5 separate regions of the Homo sapiens genome follow, and all the other regions are reported to be linked to region 3. The links are microRNA targets in miRTarBase. Many come from high-throughput screens and were not tested one by one. Region 3 holds a microRNA gene; each other region holds the end of a gene's coding sequence.
Evidence for each region. The annotated mature microRNA hsa-miR-548j-5p reads AAAAGUAAUUGCGGUCUUUGGU and lies in region 3 at 1,499-1,520, shown strand. An mRNA with a match to its seed (bases 2 to 7 or 8) in the 3' UTR can be bound and repressed. Matches are read on the target gene's strand: a 7mer-m8 pairs with bases 2 to 8, a 7mer-A1 pairs with bases 2 to 7 and ends in A, and an 8mer does both.

Region 1: miRTarBase lists BBS10 as a target of hsa-miR-548j-5p. Seed matches in the 3' UTR shown: 8mer at 2,273-2,280 and 7mer-m8 at 1,881-1,887.
Region 2: miRTarBase lists UBE2D1 as a target of hsa-miR-548j-5p. Seed matches in the 3' UTR shown: 7mer-m8 at 2,288-2,294.
Region 4: the mRNA of PTP4A1 is a reported target of hsa-miR-548j-5p. Seed matches in the 3' UTR shown: 8mer at 276-283.
Region 5: the mRNA of TMEM41B is a reported target of hsa-miR-548j-5p. Seed matches in the 3' UTR shown: 8mer at 1,046-1,053 and 7mer-A1 at 842-848.

The regions. Positions count from the first base shown.
Region 1 is chr12:76,343,365-76,346,364 of GRCh38, forward strand. It overlaps BBS10 (Bardet-Biedl syndrome 10), which reads right to left. Exons shown (of 2, transcript NM_024685.4): 2 at 1,110-3,000. The coding sequence ends at 2,449. Among named protein-coding and RNA genes, the nearest start is that of BBS10, 3.6 kb to the right of the region's middle.
Region 2 is chr10:58,368,531-58,371,530 of GRCh38, reverse strand. It overlaps UBE2D1 (ubiquitin conjugating enzyme E2 D1), which reads right to left. Exons shown (of 7, transcript NM_003338.5): 7 at 783-2,811. The coding sequence ends at 2,766. Among named protein-coding and RNA genes, the nearest start is that of TFAM, 15 kb to the left of the region's middle.
Region 3 is chr22:26,553,794-26,556,793 of GRCh38, reverse strand. MIR548J (microRNA 548j) reads left to right here and starts at 1,471; the gene lies at 1,471-1,582. All of the region lies in intron 1 of TPST2 (tyrosylprotein sulfotransferase 2), which reads left to right. RefSeq lists an enhancer at 38-1,007.
Region 4 is chr6:63,579,694-63,582,693 of GRCh38, reverse strand. It overlaps PTP4A1 (protein tyrosine phosphatase 4A1), which reads right to left. Exons shown (of 6, transcript NM_003463.5): 6 at 1-2,637. The coding sequence ends at 2,520. It overlaps LOC128125822, which reads right to left. Exons shown (of 2, transcript NM_001415059.2): 2 at 1-3,000. Among named protein-coding and RNA genes, the nearest start is that of PTP4A1, 8.7 kb to the right of the region's middle.
Region 5 is chr11:9,280,704-9,283,920 of GRCh38, forward strand. It overlaps TMEM41B (transmembrane protein 41B), which reads right to left. Exons shown (of 7, transcript NM_015012.4): 7 at 1-2,890. The coding sequence ends at 2,721. Among named protein-coding and RNA genes, the nearest start is that of TRL-CAA5-1, 7.1 kb to the left of the region's middle.

The DNA.
Region 1 (3,000 bases), not on the chromosome of region 3:
AATGGCTCATGCTGGCCCAATGAGAAAAAATAAGAAGGTCTATAAAGGTTATTGGAGAAAATGTGTTTGTGGGAGGTGGATCGACATGTAACTTAATAATAAAAAGAAACGCAGTTGAGAAGTTAATGCGTATTTGTCTTTTCCCTCCCATGGTGTAGCAGATTGTATTTTCCAAAGATAGCTGCCTCAATATATCCCATCCCACATGCTCTTATGATGTGACACTGACACTGTTCCCATTGAGTGGTGGGGCCTGCATTCTTCTCCTTTGAACCTCAGGTGATGCTTATGACTGCTCAAACAACAGAATGCAGTGAAAGTTGTCCAGTTAAGCCCAGTCAACCCCCAGAACCACAAGTAAATAACATAATGATTCAAAAAAACTAAGTTTTGGGATTATTCATTATGCAGCAGTAAAAAATAGAAACATGATCTTGATTTTGATTTTAACTGGCCTTTACATTTTCCTTGGTCTTGATTCTTTAATTTTCATTCAGATTTTACTGTAATTTTGTCTGTTCCTTTTCTTGGGTGGGGATGGTCTGTTCTTATTGCAGGTCACTTCACATCCTTTGTGGTAGAGGGTATAAGTATAATGTAATTACATTTTTAAAAGTGCTTTCCTATCTAACTCAGTGATGTAAACTCTCTAGTGTTATTCTGTAAATAAGGATAAATCCATGAAAGTTTTACCACCATTTTTGAGGGGTTTCTTTTAATGAAAAGGAAAAGGATTACTTTGTGTAGATCTGTTCTACACTTTCTGCTCCTCCCCAAAATAGATCCTTTGCCCATGAAAGTTTATAGAAATTATAATCTCATCTATGAGGACCAAATGACAGATTCATTCAACAAATAGGCCCTCAATAGGCATCTATTGTGTGTAAGATATTAGACCAAGTGCCAAACGTACAAAGACCCAGTCCTACCTCAACAGGGCTCCTGGACTAGTGACTATACCTATTAAATGCTTATCATATGCAAAGCACTGGGCATGTCTGGAAGTCATTAAATGCTTACAGTAATGGAGGAGTGTTTTAAACAACCACAAAAAAAGCAAAGTGACCAAATGACCTGAAAGGCAATTAAAAAAAAAATGAAAAAAATTATGCAGCAGTTTTAAAGTTCATTCATCCATGAATTCAGCAAAAGAGCTAATTTATTCTCTCCATATTCACAGAAACAAAATAATGCATCATATAGCATAAATGTTTAAAAAATCAGAATTACATTTAATATAAAAAATTTTGATATTATAGTTTTTAAAATACATTAGTCAACACTTATTCAACTATAATTAAAGTTTTTTTTCTTCAGTCAATCCCAAGTAAGAATCTGTTGAATAAGTAAACTGGAAACATGTATTTAAAGGAATGAATTAAAGATAACACTGTTTTGTTCAACAAGCACTTCTGAATACTTGGAGTAAATACAGCACTGTTTTGGGTATTACAGAGAACTGATAAAGGTAGAAAACACTGTCCTTGTCCATGATAAGATGCATCATATTATTTACATTGACAAGTTTTTAAAATATGAACATTTGTAAATGAAATAAATTAGAAATAAAAATTAAAAATAAAACAGAAATAAACATTAGAAATAAAAATTGTCAAATTATTTGTTACTGTGGAACTCTGGCTATGCACCAGATACAAGAAAAACCAGTAAATACATGACATATCCTTACAAGCTCTTGGGGTCAGGAGAAAATCAAAGTATTAATTGCATATCCTTTCTAGTATTAACCTTTTACTACAGAAATGAAAGAGTTAACAATGCACAGTTATATTTCAGGTAACATATATTCAAAGGTATATCAAAGGTGAAAATCTATCCAAGTTTTCCAAATGAAGTGGCAGTAAACCAATGACCACATAAAAGTAAAAATTAATTTTATGCTTTTTGAAAAAAAATTTGAGCCTTTTACTCACTGCTAATTTAATTTTATGCTTTTTGAAAAAAATAATTTGAGCCTTTTACTCAGCTTTACAAAGTATGAGTAGGGAAAATTAATGCAAATAATGTATTCAATATTAAAAACAATTAGAATAAGCCCACCCAAATCAGAGATTAAATGATTCTATGAACTAAACATGTAACGATGAAGGAGGGCTGGAGTGAAAAAGATACAGGAGAGTAAAAAGGAGCTATAAAGAAAAACCCTCCCCTAAACACATAGGCTAACACAGAGCTGAGACACAGAGGCATAAAATAGGGAAAAAACAGACACACTTAGCCAAATCTTGGCTTCCCCTCTAGATTTGTTCCATAAAGTAATTTAATATTTGTATCTGGTCTGGTGACCTTAGTGTGCTTCTTCTAAAGACTTTTAAAGTTACGCTATTTTCCTAAGTAGACTGAACTGACTTTAGAACCAGTGGTCACATGACTGCTTTACTTGGCTTGAGTTAGATGAAAAGTTTGGTTAATTAAAAACTTCTGATGTTATAGTTCATCTTCTGAATCTTGATTGTGAACTTTCTGAGGGTGTCTCTTAACAGTGATTACCATGTCAATGGTTAATATTTTTGTCAAACACTGAAGAACTGAAGTTAGTAGCTGGTATTTACCCATTACTGATTCCAAACCTGTCTGACTGCTTACCAAGGGTTGATTGGTTTGCAGTGCATGGACAGCTCTTATATATGTATGTGGAAAGCTGTACTTTCCTGTTTTAGATTTATAAAGGACTTTGGGAATGCCTAAAAGTGCATTAGCTATTATCATACTAACCATGGTTTCTTCTGATTGATGGCATTTTTTGGCATAATTGAGAAGATAGTAATGTAACAAGATCTCAAAATTACCACCTACTGGCAAAACACAACCAGCTGGCATAGATGAGGAAAGGTAACTCTGGGAAGTACCCATATTCGGTAACTTACAGCTCACTGGTAACATGCTTCCCTTTCTAGTAATATTTGTGACCTGTAAATTTTCGTAAGAAATTTCTATTCTATTTCCCCTTGTTGAATAAGCAGTGGAATTGTTCTTGAG
Region 2 (3,000 bases), not on the chromosome of region 3:
GATATAGTTTCATGACCAATAATTTCTTTTAATTTGGGAGGAAAATTAATTTCCTTAATCTCTCCATTTAAAAAATACAGAACTGTGGGAGAGCAGGATCTTGACAAACATCAATGACTGAATCATTAGATAGATCACTGTGATAAATAAGAAAAATTTAAAACTGCAATGTATTATTTTTTTCTTATGAAAAGTAACTTTTGAACGTTAACTCTTAGAGTTGTCCTTGATATGCAGTTCATTTATAATTTTTAATTTTCCCTATCAGCGTTTAAAAGGGGTGAAACAGGGAAATAATGCAAAAATTAATAAATAAGGTTGACGGAGGCATATATGTAAAGCTTGTACTTCAGGAATTGTACGCTTTTGAGATAGTTGGAGGATGGTGGTGAGGCTGCCCCTTACAACCCATGTCACTGATGTGGGTAACTGCTGTATATGGCAGTTATAAGCGTTCAGAATCCAATTTGAACATGGTTTTCAACTATGCAACTTCAAGAAGTGGGATCCTAAATCCCCAAAAGACTACCTATTTCTCTCACTCCAAGGAAGTCCTTAAATTAATGCTTAATCCACAAAAGGCCCTGACTTTTATTCTACAGTTTTAAAAGGTAACTGATGTTCTCCTTGTTAGAGTTAAGCAAAAATAATATACCCAAAATGGTGTTCTGACCGATCATGACGCCACTATGGAACTCAAGGTTTTTAGCTAATTATGAGAACTTCTGCTTACTCCTCAAGTCCAGTACAATCCAGATGTAAGCAAAGGCAAACAAGTTAGGCAAGTTTCAAAAACTTTAATAAAGAAAAAAAAGAAGACACTTCCAAAAATAAATGCCACACAAATGAAAGTTGTTTTTTTTTTTTGTTTAAAGTGAAGATATTCAAGAAACAAAACCCTTTACTATCAAAATATACTAAATATTTAAATCTAGTGATGTTGAGTGTTCAAATTCAGGGCAAATGTAGCTTATAATAATATAGCTAAGTAGAATTTTTCATGATATGGCTGTTTTAAGACATCATTTTATAGATTTACTTTTTAAGCCTATATTTTCTTAAACATCCATTTCACAATTCATTTAATTATTTTACATTCATTTATAAAAACACATATTTTCTAACAATAGGTTATTTTGTGCTTTAATAATAATGAACCATGACAAAATACTCAAGTGATTTAAATGCTTTGCTAATGACTACACCCATCACATATTCTTACATACTTCTACAGCTACTGCAATAATCAGAAGGGCTACAACTGTTCTTAAAAATGACACTCACTCAAGGTTGACAAGCATGCTAAACATTAAAGAGATGTATTTTTCCCCAAGTTAAAACATTAAAACTTTCTAGTTTTCTTTAAAATCTATAAAGATAACCTGCTTATTTAAATCACTTTTCGATGGCAACTTATAAAAACAGAGGGAGGCATAATTTTAGAACTTCCTTTGTAACTTCTATAGTAAAAAAAAAAAAAAAGTTTTTCAAATTGTGATGGCATTAAATTCCATTTTAGAAATTCTAGATTTTAAAATGTTAAGAAATGTAATGTCAATTACATCAGGGTGGGGGCATTTTAATGAATTAATCTAGTGACTGTGCAGGTCTATAAAGACCTTTCTTTTGGATGGGTGATACTGCCTTATACTCATTTCAGTACTTTTAACAAATAATCCATTTAGATATAATCCAAGACAAACCCCAAATTACTCTAAATTCTCCTCTACAGCAAGGGATCAACATATATTATCTTATAGACTGACAATTTAGTAAAGAGATACTAACCTAAAACAATAAAATTTATATAACTAATGGTGACTAATGGCAAACAAAATAGATCTGATTTTCACAATTTGGATGTAATTTTCATGCAAAATTTTAGAGTTTTGATCCTTACTTATATTTTTATTTTTTTAAGTAATCAAGACAAATAGTAGAAAAAGCATTTTATTTATATGGAAAAAGCTACAGTAAGATCTGTAAAAGGTGTCAATATAATATTGCCTATACAGGAAAAAATTCAAATGTGAATAGCAACAAATAAAAGTTACACATCTTCCTACTTAGCAGTGCAATTAATTCACATTGCAATAAAGTTAAGTCAAGTATAACAAAATCAAAACAAGTGTTTCTCCATAATCAGTATGCTGAGAATTACAGTGTAAAGATCATTTCAGATTTAAGAAATCTGCAATCAATCTACAGAATATCCTAAGACAAGGGAGACACAGTTAATTCACTTAATTATCAGCCGTTGGGGTTTTTCAATACTGTTCACAGGAAAAAAGTAATGAGTTGACATACATGTAAATAGAATATATTTAGTCTATACAGTAAAAAAATACAAATTATAAAGTGAGCTAACAAAGAATGAAATCTGAATACAGATTTATAAAACTGACATCTTAGACAACACATACAGTATTTCTCATGTAAAAACATCTAGTTTCAGCAAAAAATAATTTGGTTGCTTTTCAGCTGCATTGTAGATCTTGTAAGCTGAAGATGCAGATGTCCAAGTATCTTAAAAACCATAATAAATGTCTTTCTCAATGCATACAAAATGATAAATGCTCTCATCACAGTCTTAAGGGTATTTTTGGAAGTTTGTTTTGTCTTGCTTCAGAAACACATTTAAAATGGGTAAAAATCAAATGGTTTCATGGTACAATGAAACAGTAAACAGTGCTCAATTTACTGCTAATGTTGAAAAAAACCTAGATTTTACAGTACTCTGGTATATATGAAAATGTTTTTGATTTTTACATTGCATATTTCTGAGTCCATTCTCTTGCATGTCTGTTGTATCTGTAGATACACAAAAAGGATATAGTAAAAACATACAAAATTAATATTTCAGAAGCATCTGTCTAATAAAACTATATATTCTACCTTCTTATACTTAATTGCAATAATCACACATATATCAATTACTGGGTCAATGTGACTTAGGTTCATGCAGAAATAAAACAGGAAAAATAATTTTTTAACTCATGG
Region 3 (3,000 bases):
AGACTCCTGAGGCAGGACCATGGCTCCCTGGCCCTAACAGCCATAGATTTTGTGTCCATAACGGAGCCAGATGCTGGCAGCGATTCTTAATTGGGGTTCCAGGCTGCATTCGGGGGCCTAGGAATTTGGATGAGGGGAAAATTACATCTTTATTGACCCTAGTTTAACATTTCCTCCAGGTGACAACATAGGTGATAAATCACAGTAGTAGTGGCAGCACTCGCATCACCAGTAGAAACCACACTTTTTTTTTGAGATGGAGTTTCGCTCTTGTCGCCCAGGCTAGGGTGCAATGACGCGATCTCGGCTCACTGCAACCTCTGCCTCCCAGATTCAAGTGATTCACCTGCTTCAGCCTCCCAAGTAGCTGGGATTACAGGTGGCTGCCACCACGCCTGGCTAATTTTTTTGTATTTTAGTAGAGACGGGGTTTCACCATGTTGGCCAGGCTGGTCTTGAACTCCTGACCTCAGGTGATCCGCCCACCTCGGCCTCCCAAGGTGCTGGGATTATAGACATGAGCCACTGCTCCTGGCCCATATTTTTATATCACATTTTAGGTGCCACAGATGTGTCTGCTTGCAGATGACAGTGATTATTCTGTCTGCTACTAGATCTTGTTATTGATTGCTTTAATAAAGGAGCAGATAGGTTACAGATAATATTTCACAGCAATTTTTGTAATCACATTCTTAGCCAAAGTTTACTATGTTGGTTTCCTTTTCATCCTGTATATTTTATTGTATTCCATTTAAAAGCATTATTCTGGGAAGGGGCCCATAGATTTCACCAGATGGTTGAAGAGATCCATGGCACAAAATGGTGGAAGAACCCATTAGACCTGGGTTTGAGTCCTCATGCTGCCCTGCACCTGCTGTGTGAGTGTGAGCAGAGTGTGAGCAGCCCATTCCGCCTCTGGATTTCTTATTCATGATCCAGCCAGAGAGGGGCTGTCTCCCCCACAGGGTTGCCGTGGGAGGCCTGCAGTGGGAGTCGATGCCACTTTGTTGTGGTGCCTGTCTGTTGGGTGTTATTAGGTCTTCTGGGCAGGACGTGACACTGGGTGCTCCAGCGTGCCCTGAACGTGTTCCCACCGCCTCCTGCACACCCCAGTCTGTCTGGGCATCCATCCCACTGGGTTGATTGTCTGCCGGCTCAATGGCCGTGACACTCATTATGGGCAGGACTGTGTCCGTCCTAATAAATAATGGTACAGAATTGTAGCTGATGCCTCTGAGCTCACACTCTTTGCCAGCTTCACAACAGCTCCACAAGGTAGGTGCCGTTTTCAGACTTATTTTGGAAATGTTAAACGTTATAACAGGTGAGTGAGGCTCAGAGACAAGAAGTCACTGGCTCAAGGCCACTGGTGAGTGGCCACACCAAGATCGCCTGGGTCTGTCCAACTTTAGGTCTACACTCCTGACCCCTGCACTCCACGATGATTGCATTCCTGAGCCTGGCCCAGGTGGGCAGCCAGTGAATAGTTAGCTGGTGCAAAAGTAATTGCGGTCTTTGGTATTACTTTCAGTGGCAAAAACTGCATTACTTTTGCACCAGCCTACTAGAACGCTGAGTTCAGTGCCTTAAGCGGTGTTTCACAGAGAGGGAGCAAGGGGCAGCGCTTGTTAAAATGCAAATTCCCTCAGCTCCACGTTAAAATGCAAATTCCCTCAGCTCCACCTTGCCTCTTCCAAATCAGAATATTTGAGGGCAGGCCCCAGGAAATCTGCCTTTTAAAGTTTTGGGCTATTCAGAAGCACACCAAAGTTTAACCACTACCCTAAAGGGAAGGAATAACAGTCAGGTAGTAACAAAGCTCTGTTCTGAGTGCTTTATGTGAGTTTATTTATTGTGAGACAGAGTCTTGCTGTGTCACCCAGGCTGGAGTGCAGTGGCGCCATCTTGGCTCACTGCAACCTCCTCCTCCTGGGTTCAAGCAATTCTTGTGCTTCAGCCTCCCAAGTAGCTGGGATTACAGGCATTCACCACCACGCCTGGCTAATTTCTGTATTTTTGGCAGAGACGGGGTTTCACCATGTTGGCCATGCTGGTCTTGAACTCCTGACCCCAGGTGATCCGCCCACCTTGGCCTCCCAAAGTGCTGGGATTACAGGCATGAGCCACTGCAAGTTTATTTATTTAGTCTTCACAAGTGTTAATGGCCTCCCCATTTCACAGATGAGGAAAGTGAGGCACAAAGTAGTTAGATAACACCTCCCCACTGACCCCCAACCCAGGGCTGCATTGCTAGGAATCAGCCAGGTGTGGAGGATTCCTGCCCCTATGCTCAGTCCCCTACCTCTGACAGCTTCTGGACAGAGGAGTAGAGACGGGATCCCATGGTGGGTGGGGGTGAGGGCTCAGGAAGCACTGGTCCCTACAAGATCACGCTGGCCCTTTCCTGTTTGCCTTGTTTACCAGGCAGGGGCCCTCTGTGTTTCTGGGCAGGAAGTCCTGAGCAGGGGCTGTGCCAGGTGTCAGGGGCAAGACTGGGAGATGGTCCAGGAGTCTGAGCCGGGCACTACTCTGAGCAGCTGTCTGACCTGGGGCACATAGCTTCCCCATCTGTGTATGGGGTGGGGTCGAGATTTGGAAGAGGTAGTTAAGAGCTTGGGTTCCGGCATCAGATAGACCTGAGTTCCAGATCAAACTCAGCCACTTATCATCTGTGTGATCTCCAACAAAGCACTTCACCTCTCTAAGCCTCAGTTTCCCCTTCTGTAAAACGTGGCTAATAATAATAGTGCCTACCCTCCAAGCCTGTCATGAGGGTCAAAATATATTGTTGGCTGTCCGTCTTCTTGGGTTCTGCATGCGGGGATTCAGCCGACAGTGGATCAAAAATATTCGGGAAAAAATGGGTGGTTGCATCTGTACTGAACATGAACAGAGCTTTTTTGTCCTGTGATTGTTCTCTAAACAATACAGTGTAACAACTACCTACATAGCATTTAGATTGTATTAGGTAGTATAATTGATCTAGCACTGATTTAAAGT
Region 4 (3,000 bases), not on the chromosome of region 3:
TCAACATTATGGTTGCTATAGACAAGCCTAGGTAGCTAGCCTCTATTTACATCATCCCACTAAGGGTATCCAAACCCAAGTAACCAAATTTTAGAACACTATCAGATAGTTTCCTGCATTCAAGACTTCAACTCATAACTCTTTGAACTCTTATTAGATATAAGGAATCTAAGATGTATTATAGGCATTCCTATAATTAGCCATATTTACAAGATACAAAATATTTGGATAAAAAGCAAATTTCATCACATCGTATAATGTACAGATAAGGTTTATAAAGTAAATTAATTTATTTTTAGCACCATATATACAATCCAAACACTGCAAATTAATTTCTTTTCAAACTCAAAAGATAGTTTTCATTAATCATGATGGCACATCCTCTCTCTCAATAAACGCAAATGCTGTTTTATGGGCTGTGTGGTAATAGTTTAACATTTAGTAATTGATTATATAAAATTATGTTCTCAAGACTAGGCTGCATTTCCTTTAAAAAAAAAACAAAACCTCAGGTTAAAAATTAGCCAAAAATTTGTGATTACTATCACAAATAATCCAAGATTTAAATAACCAAGGGCCTCCAGAGGCCCCTGTTCTTCCTTTTGCCCTGTCTAAAATCCAATGAAATATATTAAGTGTTAAACTGGTATGAAGAGGTGGAACTAAATTCTTTGAAACACAAGGTGGAGTATCACTTTTTACTTAAACTTTGAGTCCTTTACATTTATAACTGCTATTCAAAAAAAATTAGACAAAGACATCTAGATTTAGATTAACGTGATCAAAGGGATTATTGTGGATCATTAAAGGAAACTTAACATTAAGCCTTCATGTACCAAATACTAATATTTAAATTAATTTCAAAATCTATAAAGGTATGTAATTATTAATTTGCAAAGGAGAAAACTGAGGCTCAGAAGTTGCACAAAACCATGAACTAGTGGAACTGAGCTTTACAAACCAAGGCTGTCCTCTACTATACATTATTTCTCCTCAGTACACAATAATAAATTGGTTCAAAATTATCTAGACCTTTAAAAAGTATATAATGGAAAGTGCTTTTAGTATTAAAGTTTTCATGAATGACCCTAACAAATTTTGTCTAAAAGTTTACTAAAATGCTGACATCATTTATAATCCTTCATTTATTTGTAAAAAGATGAGGACACACATTAAGTGAAGTGCAATTCATTTTGTCTTCTACAAAATAAGTTAATTTTAAGCAAACCAATCTCAATGATGATAAATGCATGTCATTATTTATTTAGATGTTTCAGCTCTCGCACTAAGTTTTTACAAGCTGGTGAACACTGACAAAATTATTTCTCCCACAGAACTATAACCACACATCCCCAGACAGTATAAATATATGGTTGAACTAACATTAATACACATCACCATTTTATCAATTACATAATAAAACAAATTGTCAAGTATCCAAATATTAAGTTACACAGCTCAAAAGGCATATAAAATATTAGATGTCTGCTCAATTCATTAGCAGAAACCCATTTCTTTTTTTGCAAGAGAGGTTGGGAAGGAAAAAAAAAATCACACTTTCAAACAAAAATAAGTTGGTAAACACACTTCTGATAAGTATGGGAAAAAAATTACAAGAATTTCAGGAAGTTTATGATTACAATAACAAAGCATCTCTACCTTTTAAAAAAATATTTTACTAAATTAAAGAGCATATTCTACATGTTTGCACAAGACAAAGGCAACATTTTGCTAAAAATAATTAATAGCCCCCTCCCATTCTTTTCTCAGGCCCTCCCTGTTAAGTTGCACCTCAGAGTGCAAACATTAAATTAATGTAAGGCTTTTTTGTCTGAAGACATTAAAGACATGTGCTTCTGTACAACGTAGATTTTCAAAATGGAGGTTTTTTTAATACAGCACAAAGTGAGATACATGGAAACACGTAAAATAATCACTGTAAGACTTGGTAAAAAAAAAAAAAAATCAATGGTTAAGCAAACCTGACGTATATTGGTATGAATGTGGGAGATGTAAACATAAAGTGAGCAGGCAAATAACCATGTAGGCCCTACTTTCAATGTTTGAAATGATTGAAGGAATAAACCACATAAGGTCTAGTGTTCATAGTTCCTGGGATTTTACTTCTGTATGGTACTAAAAATATACAAGTATTGTGCTGGGTATTTTGGCACCTAATCTTCCTAAATTTCTTATGTATTGATAAGATTCTGGCATGGGAATAGATTTAACAAGTCATAACTCAATACTGCATGATTTGGGGAAAGGTCAATTGATACAAATGACAAGCACATTTTATATGCTGACAGCAAGAATCTTTTGCCAAGTATCCAAATAGGTTGACTGTAACCCAAATACAGAGGTTGCCAAATCTGTCTAGCTTGAGGCCTGGTAAAACTGCCTTTCAATACTCCTATGGAAGCTTCATTAGACTTACTAAGCCAACATGTTGGCTAATATGTATAACAAATTAGGCCCTATCTCAAGTTCCACTTCCAGTAGCATTAGGCACCCCAATTTTATTGAATGCAACAGTTGTTTCTATGACCGTTGGAATCTTTGAAACGCAGCCGCATTTTAGGACGATACTTCTCCAAATACAGAAGTTGCTTGCTGTTAAAAGCTCCACGCCGCTTTCTGGGAGGAAAAAAAAAAAAAAATGAAACAAGGCAAAAGCCCCCTACAGTAATATTTAGTGTCTTATAGACAACCATCACCTCTCTTGTGGCAATTTATCTTTTGATTAATTAGGCTGTGACCTGATGCAGAAAGGAATATGAACAGGCACATCAGTGTAAATGGAAAAAATCATAAAAAGTTAATTTTCTTTATATCTTCGTTTGAGTATTGGTTACAACAGTCGACTCACAAATCCATTTACACGTAAGTCCACGAAAAGACAAAACTAATTTATAGTGAAGTCAGAAGTTGCCTCTGGTAGCAGGGAAGATGACTACAAAAGCCACAAAGGCATGTTCTACAGCACTCAAAATATTCTAT
Region 5 (3,217 bases), not on the chromosome of region 3:
ACTAAGTGTCATGGAAATATTATACTCAAAATAACAGAGCTCCAGAGAAAGACAGTTAACTAAGAAAGAACAGTTTCACTTTCTTAGCTTGTCAACTCCTAGTTAGCCTGCTTGCCTCCGCACCACAGATGCTTGTCTTCTTGTGGTTGTTACCACAAGCCAAAGCTTGAATTTACATGGGCATCAGGCCAAGTCTGTAAATCCGTGAAGACAGGCCATCAACTGCATTGAGGGTACAGCCTTGCTGAAGGGTCCTTTCTTGACAGTCAATGATGATGAATCTGGAAAAACTGTCTATTCTCTTAGGAGAAGAAAATATACCCCACCTAAAGTCGCAGCTACCATTAACAAAAAAAAAAATTAGCAAAGGGAAAGAATCAATGGTAAGGACAGTAAATATACTCTGAGAATAGAGTAAGTACAATTTACACACGCTGGAGTAAATAGTGAAGCTTCTACTGAGTTCTACTGAGTCTAAGCTCTTTTATTTTTAAAATTCTGATAAAAATTTACTCAATTACATTTTATACATTAATATTTAGTGAATTTGTCCAAAAAGGCTATGTTTAATTTATGTGTAAAAATAACAAAAGATGTATCAGTCAGTCTCTGGGCAATAAGAAAGGAAGAAAGCCTTGCTAGAAATAATAAATAATCTCACGCAAAAGGCCAGGTGACATAAGAATACTACAATAATCAATATGTTTTCTTTGTATTTACAATAAAATCCATCTGTTAACACTGTGATAGAAAAAATAATCAGTCCACATCATGTAATAAAAACAGGCTTTGAGGATGATTATACCTCTTATAATAAAAACATACAAGGATTTCTCACAGCTAAAGTACTTTTCAACTTTGACAACTAATAACAGTCATGGGTGAAGGTAAAACTGACAGAGTACTTTAGATCAGCTATGTCCTACAGTCAAGGAATCAAGGGCATTACCCATTTACCAAGCAGCAAAAAGCACTTTCATTTTTCCAGAACTATTTAAATACAGTAGTTGCCATGTGATCAGTTAATTTTACTTTGTGAGTTAGATAAAGTAAAGACTAAATTGGGAAACTGCAATAAGTAATCAAAAGTAGCTCCAAACAACAAAGCCATCAATAGAAACAAAAGGCATTTTTCTAGGTGTATCATGCATAAAAAGAATAATTACATAATATTATTAAATATATTCCTTAATGACCAGATTAATAAATGAGGTAAAATTTAGTCATTGGAACAAATAAACTATATTTAATCACTTGTGTTTTGCTGTCACTGTTTAAAATAATTAACTTAATGTCTAAAAACTACATACTCTTGAATGTTTGCTTTTTAGAGCCCCTTGTGGGATATTAAAGAGCCATAACAAATTATCTGAATATAAATTATCAATACCAGGCTGGGCACAGTGGCTCATGCCTGTAATCCCAGCACTTTGGGAGGTGGAAGTGGGCATATAGCCTGAGGTCAGGAGTTCAAGACCAGCCCGGCCAACATGGTGAAACCCCGTCTCTACTAAAAACACAAAAATTAGCTGGGCACGGTGGCACACACCTGTAATCCCAGCTACTCAGGAGGCTGGGCCAGGAGAATCGCTTGAACCCAGGAGGCGGAGTTTGCAGTGAGCCGAGATCACACCACGCACTCCACTCCAGCCTGGGCAACAGCAAGACTCCGTCTCAAAAAAAAAAAAAATTATCAATACCAAATATGATACAGTTATGTAATACCCATTTTGCATATGCACAGTGGAAATACTGTAAAAACTACAAGATGAAAGAAAACCGACTGGCCAGAACTTTAAATTTCAGACTAATCCATGATAAAAATCTAGATGATAAAAAACAAAAATAAAATTAACAAAATAGATAACTTGATATCCTTTCCATATTCAGTCGTCTACTAACATGCCATCTCCAAACAAATCCATTACCTCAAAAGAGGAAGAAAATGGGCCAGGCGCGGTGGCTCACGCCTGTAATCCCAGCACTTTGGGAGGCCAAGGCGGGCAGATCACGAGGTCAGGAGATCGAGACCATCCTGGCTAACACGGTGAAACCCCGTCTCTACTAAAAATACAAAAAAATTAGCTGGGCATGGTGGCGGGCGCCTGTAGTCCCAGCTACTCAGGAGGCTGAGACAGGAGAATGGCGTGAACCCAGGAGGTGGAGCTTGCAGTGAGTGGAGATCGCGCCACTGCACTCCAGCCTGGGCGGCAGAGCTAGACTCCGTCTCAAAACAGAAAAAAAAAAAAAAAAAAAAAGAGGAAGAAAATGTAAATCTCTTTTTAAGTTTTCCAGTTTATGCTCTGAAAAAAGCCTAACATTAACAAAACCTGCAACACTACTTTAAAAAATCTAGAATTTAAAAATATCTATTTTAGTTATTAAAGATAAAAAATATTCAATTAAATTGAATGAATTAGCTGGATCAACAATTTCCTACCACACTACTATTATCTACAGCTACCCTTGGTATAATAATTTATAAGATGTCTAAGATGTCTACCTTAACTATTGATAGCACTTTTCACAGTATACCAATTTCCATTTTTACTTTCTTCTCCCCTTGTCACTTAAATGTATTACTTTAACTATCTGATAGGAAATTTTATTTTACAAATTCCTTGTTTAATTACTGAAGAGGTGATTTTAAAACATAAATGGATGCACCTGTTAATCCTGAGATGGTGATGACAGCAAAACTAAAAATCAGATGATTATTTTTACTCAAATTTCTGCTTTAGTTTTTTTTGGAAGATGGCTGGCAGAATAGAAAGAACAGCCAAGATCATCAGAATAAATATTGAGTTCCAGGAAACAGCTTCTCCTGCTGTTGTAAGTTGATACAGTGTTGTTCCTGCCTTAATGGCTACAAAAGAAGGAGGTGCGACACCTGAAATAAAATATAAAAAGATACAGTAAAAACCACCGCAATTGTTTTTAAAAAATTAAAATGTTCTGTGTGCATAAAGTTTCTTAAAACAACACAGCTATTTCCATTTTGGAAAAAAAATTAAGAATTTAAAGCTCAAGTTTATTTCCATATAAAGAATTCAATCTTTCCTAATCACCTCTTAAGGATAATGATTTTTTTTTTTTTTGAGACGGAGTTTCGCTCTTGTTGCCCCCGCTGGAACACGATGGCGCGATCTTGGCTCACTGCAACCTCCGCCTCCCGGGTTCAAACAATTCTCCTGCCTCAGCCTCCCGAGTAGCTGGG